2 linked regions of the Homo sapiens genome follow. The protein of the gene in region 2 interacts with the protein of the main gene of each other region in a pairwise test. Each region holds a gene or a part of one and is shown on either strand. Other genes may lie near its edges.

Region 1 (3,778 bases), on a different chromosome or scaffold from region 2:
AAGGAAGCATGAAAGAGCCAGATATGTTTAACAAGCTTGGCAGTGTTGGTATGGCTGGAGTGCAGCTTGCTGAAGAGAGAGAAGACGAGCCTGGTCAAGTAGACAGGGACCAAATAAGTAAGTATATGAAGCCAAGAGAAGTGGATGGAATAGTCCAGAGACAGTGTGTGGAACCCAGGAACACTGAAGAGGCAGGCTGAGGAGAAGACTGAGAGAGGAAGTGAGAAGAAAGTATGGAGCCACAGTGAGTAGGTAGTCAACTGCATAAGTGAGGCAGAGAAGTGAAGAGGCATGCAGCCTGAGAAAGACAACTGAATATGGCAGGTGGTCACTGAGAAATCTGAAAGGATGATTTCAGTAGTGTCAATGGAGTAGAAGTCAACCTAAGTGGCAATCTGAACAAACAGGAAATAAGAAAGGTGAGAGGGGATTACATAATAATCCTGAAATAAGGCTCTAGTTCTATGTAATATTTTGAACAATTATTAATAGATGAAATATATACTCAAAACTGTCCACTGATAATATTAGTTATCATTCTAAGGCTTAAAATTAGGGTAAAAAGAAAATAAAATTATAAATATCACTGGAGAATTCAAGTGAGCATACAAAAACAATTCTGTATTTTCTAAGAAAATCTAAAAAGGCATTAATTTGAACTCCACTTAAACTAAAAACCACCACTAAAAGTTGCATGTTGTCCTGTGTGACATAACATGAAATTCACAGTGATTAATGGATGAAGAAAGTCTCAGGGGGCTTAGCTCTTGTTTTTACAGTCTCGGATGGGCTTATGTCTGCTACAATGGGAGAAAACCAGAGGTCAATAAGAATAAAAAGTGCTTAATGGCAAACTTACTCATCCTTTAATCTTGCATTAAGTTTAGGAAGACCCATGTATTCACACAGTTCCTGGAAAAATATTTTGACAAAAATTCTACTGGATGATGTAGTGGTTTCTTCACTCAGTTTTATACATTCAAGAACCTGAAAATTAAAATAAAAAAAGACAAGTATATTTTAATTTATAAAAGACAGGACATAGTGACCAATATTTGTAGGTTTAAGTGTTTCTCAAAATTACTATTTATTCCCATCTTCAACCAGAGTTATCTCTGAATATCTCCCCTTATGCTGACATAAAGTTTAAAACTACTTCTCTATACTAACTTTCAAAATGTTAAGATGCGACAGAAATAGATTTCATTCTCTGTTTTGAGTAATGTGCTTTTTATAGCAGGGAAGATATCCTCTCTTGAGCATATAATGGTAAAGATTACTAGCTCCTAAACCTTACTCATCAAAATGTGGTGTATATGAAGGTTTGGGGCAAAATGCCACTTAGCACATTAGGCTACAATTTTGTTTAGCACACATAACATACGATTTAAAAAAAGACAGAAAGTATAATGGTTTATTCTGAATATTAAGACTGTGGCTTAAAAACTGAAATGCCTAAAGAAATATTTTTAGGGAAAATAAAAATAAAAGTAACCTCTAGTTTTTATGGGTTATGTGTTTGGGGGGCCCATTAGTTGGTTAATTGTTTAAAATTCTCACTTCATTTTCTCAAAGAGGGGAAAAAAGAAGTCAAAAATTATTACAATTAGTCTCCTAGGTTAGATTACGAATGCCTATTAATGTAGCTGGACATACTTGGTACTTAAAGTACTATAAAAATCTAACCAATGTTTTTAAGTTTGAGATATTGCCTCATTCTACCATTAGTAGGATGGCATTCTACAAGATAATCCTGTTCTTTCCTCCTGGATGTAATTTCTCATCCTTCTCTCTTTCTTTCTTTCAAATTCCTTTAGTAATTTTGCTTTTCTTAGAATCTAAGACTTTTTATTTTGTATCATTGCTATGGGCATATCTTACCTCTGGTCTTATACTGTAACCCTCTTGAAAGGAGGGGCCATGTATAATTCACTCTGAATACACAGCACCTCTCTCAATGACTCAGTATATAAGTGGTGGCTAACTAACACTGGTTGAAAAACAGCTGTAAAATCAATGCCAGCTTAATGAACGCCTTTCAAATTTCAATCCAGTGCACATTTCCCTATCAAGAATATATCTTTCTTTGTTCTATGACTATAGGATATCCTCTCTATAGCTTACCCAACTTCAATGTCTGCTAAAAAGAACACATCCTTCTAGAACAATCATTTTTTCTCAAACCCAACAAGAGAACCATGGAGAGTTATTCCCTCAGGAATCAAGGGAGAGTAATTCAGAGACACATTTACCACCAAAATAGTGGCATATGTGGATGTGAGTGTGCATGCACGTGTGTGTACACAGAGAAGATGAAAATCTGCAGTACTTTTCCTGAAGACACTCCTAGCCATCACTATCGAAACACTGGCATGTTTGGACTGTTAATATAATACAAAGATAGTATTTCTTGTATATTATTTACCTAGCTTTCTGATTCCTTATAACATGATGATAATCTCAAAGACAGCAGTTCTACACATTTCATTTTAAAGCACATTTCATAATAGGATAAATATGGCTAGCTTATACGAAAATCTATTTGAGAACAGGGAATTAGGAAGGAAGTATAAATATTGACCCATGTACTTACACTCCATGGAAGTGAATCAGTGTATAAAAGGTGAGCAAACATCTTAGCAACATTTCGCAACTTGTTTGTTTCCAAGCGATGGATGGTATCATACTGTTCTTTGAATATACCTTCAAAGGATTCCATGTACTCTTTCTTTAGCATGCAAAATCGCTAATAAATAAAAAATCAGTACCATTAAAAATTGAATGTTAATACAATTATGAGCATATTAAATCCTAAATTTACTGAATCAAAACTTTATTAATATGCTTTATATTTTCAAAGAGCATATATCACTAAATCCTTTTGTGCCATATGATGCTCAAAAAAGAAGTTAATATATATGGTTTCTAATTACCTGAGATTTACATGTTAAAACAAAATCATACATGTAGGTGATCACATGAGGGTAGAGCTTAAAGAAATATTTTAGATCATGCTTTAATTGTGCTGCCTGAACATGTACTTGACTTTAGACACTGCTTTGAGATTTTGAAAAGACAGCATTTACTTGTCGTCTATTGGGAAATCATTACAAATCATGGAAAATTCCAAAAAGCTCTGGAAAAGTGATATGCAAAGTTAAAGCACTGCAAAAATGAAGTAGAAAAAGAGGAAGGTGAAGAGAGTGGGAAACCTGAGGAAGGAGAGAATAATTTGCTTTTAGCAAAAGTGGTAATATGTTTTTAAATGAGACCAGACCATAAAGCAGAAATCATTAATTTACAATATTCGTTTTAAGAATTCCCTCAGTAGAGGCTGGAACTCACCCCAGCTAATAAGCCAAAAAATTTTTCGTATGTCCTCTGTTGGGCACAGCAATCAAGTATCATGTTGCAGAGTTCTTTCTATTTGGGAAAAAAAATACATTAATGATTCAAAACACAAAGAGACTAAATATTGTATAATTTACCAGTATGATAGTGACTGCCTGCATTTTTAAATAAGGGTTTAAAACAGTTCAAAAATTTTGTAAATAAAATAAAAACCTCAATCTATGTTAAACTCATCATTTTTTACAGGCTTGGGTCTGGCTGACAGCTTCCACAGTCATTTATGCTAATTACATTAATTATAAAATTCTAAATTCATGATAAGTATGAACCACATCAAGAAAATCTAGTATAGGAAACAGACATATGAGGGAGAGATTTAATACACTGCATTCTTAAAGGATTCTATGCAGAATTCTTTTAAATATAG
Region 2 (3,778 bases):
AATTTTTTTGTATTTTTAGTAGAGATGGGGTTTCACCATGTTGGCCAGGCCAGGCTGGTCTTGAACTCCTGACCTCAGGTGATCTGCCCACCTCGGCCTCCCAAAGTGCTGGGATTACACGCGTGAGCCACCGCGCCTGGCCGACTTATGAAAATATCTACTTTTTCAAGGTAACATTCTTCTGATTCCATGTTCACCAAGAAACTTCTGGTTTGTTCTGGTTCCCATGTGCCCTAACTATAGGAAAATCTTGGCCTAGGCAGAGGGCACACATACCTGGGACCCTTGGCAGTTCCTTACTGCTTATAAATTACTAAACTTGGGTCCTGGTTTTACACATCATTTTTAGCGAGCTAGATTAAATCAGGTCTTCCCATGACATGAGATTTTTGAGCCTGACTCTTGCACTCTGGATTGTGCTGATTCCGTCAAGGTGATGCCCCAGGCAGTGCCCATGCCCAGGTGGCCACTTGTGTCACCACCTCCTTCAAGCCTCTACAGCATATGCTTTTAAAATTGGAGAAAATTTTCTAGCTCCCCTTAAATTCCACAAGGACTCACAGCCTCTCTTGAAAAAATGTTTTGAAACTCAGAAGAATGATAGGCAGGGAATTTCAACAGCTTTGAGAAACTACTGCTATAACGAACAGCAATATTTTCCTAAGGGAATAATTCATTTTCCCATTTTTAAAAGTTACTTTGGCTCACGCCTGTAATCCCAGCACTTTGGGAGACCGAGGCAGACGGATCATGAGGTCAGGAGATCGAGACCATCCTGGCTAACACGGTGAAACCCCATCTCTACTAAAAATACAAAATTAGCCGGGCGTGGTGGCATGCGCCTATAGTCCCAGTTACTTGGGAGGCTGAGACAGAAGAATGGCATGAACCTGGGAGACTGAGACAGGAGAATGGCATGAACCTGGGAGACGGAGGTTGCAGTGAGCCGAGATCGCGCCACTGCACTCCAGCCTGGGCGATAGAGCGAGACTCTGTCTCAAATAAAAAAAAAAAAAAAAAAAAAGAAGTTACTTTCTGTAGTTCAAATATGGTGAATTTAAAAGAAAGTTAGCAACCTAAGTTAACTACATTGGATACATGTATATTAACCACGTTGCTTTTAATTTAATACAAAATATCTTAGACACTTGTAAAAATATGACAGCTAAAAATACAAACAAAAAAAATACCCATATACCCAGTGTAAGAAACACTACTGATATAGCTGAAACCCCTGGGTATAGTGTTATACTATTGTGCGGCCCTTGTAACTGTCATTATAGGCCCGGGCACGTTGGCTCACTCCTGTAATCCCAGCACTTTGGGAGGCCAAGGTGGACAGATCACCTGAGGTCAGGAGTTCAAGACCAGCCTGGCCAACATGATAAAACCCCATCTCTACTTAAAAAAAAAAAAAATACAAAAATACAAAAATTAGCCGGGCATGGTGGTAGGCACCTGTAATCCCAGCTACTGGGGAGGCTAAGGCAGGAGAATCGCTTGGACCCGGGAGGCAGAGGTTGCAGTGAACCGAGATCGCGCCATTGTACTCCAGCCTGGGCAAAAGAGTGAAACTCCATCTCAAAAAAAAAAAAAAAAAAAATTGTCATTATAGAAGTGAAATGGTATTCAATTAAGCAAGAGGGACTTTTCCCTCCATTTATATTTGGACAGTAGCAAAGTTTTCCACCCAAATCTATATGCGATAATTCCAGATTTGCTTGGTGGGAGAACAGTGCAAGAAACCAACATACTGATATTTCTTGGTATGAATCACACAGAGACTATATGTACAAACTAGAAACAGGTGTGACCCCACTCAGATTATTTCTGAACAGTCATTTGTTAAGATTAGGCCTGATGCCTGAGCCATCTGTTTATATGCTACAGAGCAGAGCTTCTGGGGCTTTCAAAGAAAAAGTTTGCTATACAAACTTTCTACCCATGACTGTTACATTTATGTTGGAAATTGTGGGACAGACTCTCCACAGGCAAAACATTTTCTAGGGACCATGCCTGTTTCCTCTTCTGTTAAAAATCAGGCTCAAAATATACCCACAGCTATATAAAGTTACTTGTTCCCTGAGACTGATAACTTCTAACAAGGGATGGCAATTTCTCTGGACTTATTAACAGAAGGAAGGCAATGCCTGTGGGTTCAGTTCTCCCTGTATTTACTGAACACATTCCACACCTGGTATAAAAATAAATAAACCACAGTTCCTCAAGAAGCTGACTCTCTAGGCGTTATAGACAGACCTGGTGCACGAGGAAGAAAATTACAGGAAGAAGAAACCATAATAGGAAAAAAAAAAAAAAAGTCGAAGCAACCAAAGTAAATAAATAAATAAATAAATAGAATATAAGCCACTAAGCCAGGCAAGGTGGCACACGCCTGTAATCCCACCTACTCACAAAGTTGAGGCAGGAAGATAACTAGAGGAAACAACTCCCAGACCAGCCTGGGCGACATAGCAAGACTCCATCTCAAAAACACAAGTTAAAAAAAAAATTAGCTGGGTGTGGTGGAGTGTACCTGTAGTCCCAGCTCTTGGCAGGCTAAGGCAAAAGGATCACTTGAGCCTAGGTGTTTGAGGATGCATTGAGCTATGACGGTGCCACTGTACTCCAGCCTGGGTGATGGAGTGAGACCTCATCCCTAAAAAAGAATAAATGCAAGTAAGCAGGGACTGGTTACTGAGGCCTGCTGTTCTGGTTTTCTTTCTTCTTCTTCGGCAGTTTCATCTCAGTTTCCTTCCAACACTTTCCCCTCCTCTAATCTACCATGAGGGGTCTGCGATGTCCTCTTTTTCTCCCCTGGAGAGCCTCATACCATCTTCTGGCTTTAATGAACTCACTTAGGCTGATACTTCCCAATATCTTCCCTCTAACCTGGATCTCATGCCTGAACTCCAGATCAGCAGATCCATCTGTCTATTCAAAACCTCCAACTGGCACCTCAAACTCAGTATTTCTAAAACTGAACTCACCACACGCTCCTCCTTGCCCCTAATAGATCTGCACTTCCTTTCACATTTCCTCTCTGTTATAGCCCCACCATCTACTGAAAACCTGAATATCAACCAGGACCCATGCTAACCCTTCTCTATTACTCGGTAGGTCCTGATCCAGATTCCAACCACCTCTCTCCAACCCTATCCAACTCCAGGTGGCTACCATCTGTACCTGAACCACTCCCCTCAAATCATTCTCCAAAGGGCTCACTCTTCACAGAAACAATCGTACCACACCTGTTTACACCCTTCATTAACTTCCCCACTACCCTCAGGATAAATCTAAATCCTTTAACAAAAAATCCTCATTGTGTGGCCCTTACAGTCGGCCTTTCCTCCACGCACTTCAGGCTTCAGGCAGACCAGCTTCCTCTGCGTCTTTGGTCCTGTGCAGTTCTCTTTGTTGGAACTCCTCCAGCCCTTGATAGGACTCCCTTGCCCCATCCTCAGGTCACAGCTCAGAATCAAATTCCCTGAGCAGCCTTCCCTTTGCTGCACCTCCCTCTGGCCTATAGCACACCCTCTACTTCCCTTATCACAGCATGCATCATGCCTGTTTTCTTACTGGCAACAACACTAGGGTGAGCTTCCAAGTATGTATGTGCTTGGCACTTACGCATCTTCAGTACTGAGTGATCATATAAGTGATTGGATGGTCACCAGGAGCAAAGTTCATCTATTCCTGACTTTTTAGGTGGAATAACCAGTTTCTCTAACTTTCCCTTACCCAAGAACCAGGTAGCCAAAGGTAGGGAGGGTCCTAG

What was found. The genes of interacting proteins can lie anywhere in the genome.
Region 1: the proteins of PTPN21 (region 2) and CWC22 interact in binary tests that used the Homo sapiens proteins (3 or more experiments, as listed by UniProt).

What each region holds. Positions count from the first base shown.
Region 1 is NC_000002.12:179,951,612-179,955,389, forward strand, and holds part of CWC22 (pre-mRNA-splicing factor CWC22 homolog), read right to left. Parts: intron 3,424-3,778; coding exon 3,346-3,423; intron 2,747-3,345; coding exon 2,594-2,746; intron 988-2,593; coding exon 860-987; intron 1-859. UniProt on the Homo sapiens protein: Required for pre-mRNA splicing as component of the spliceosome. As a component of the minor spliceosome, involved in the splicing of U12-type introns in pre-mRNAs. Promotes exon-junction complex (EJC) assembly.
Region 2 is NC_000014.9:88,544,993-88,548,770, forward strand, and holds part of PTPN21 (tyrosine-protein phosphatase non-receptor type 21), read right to left. Parts: intron 1-3,778.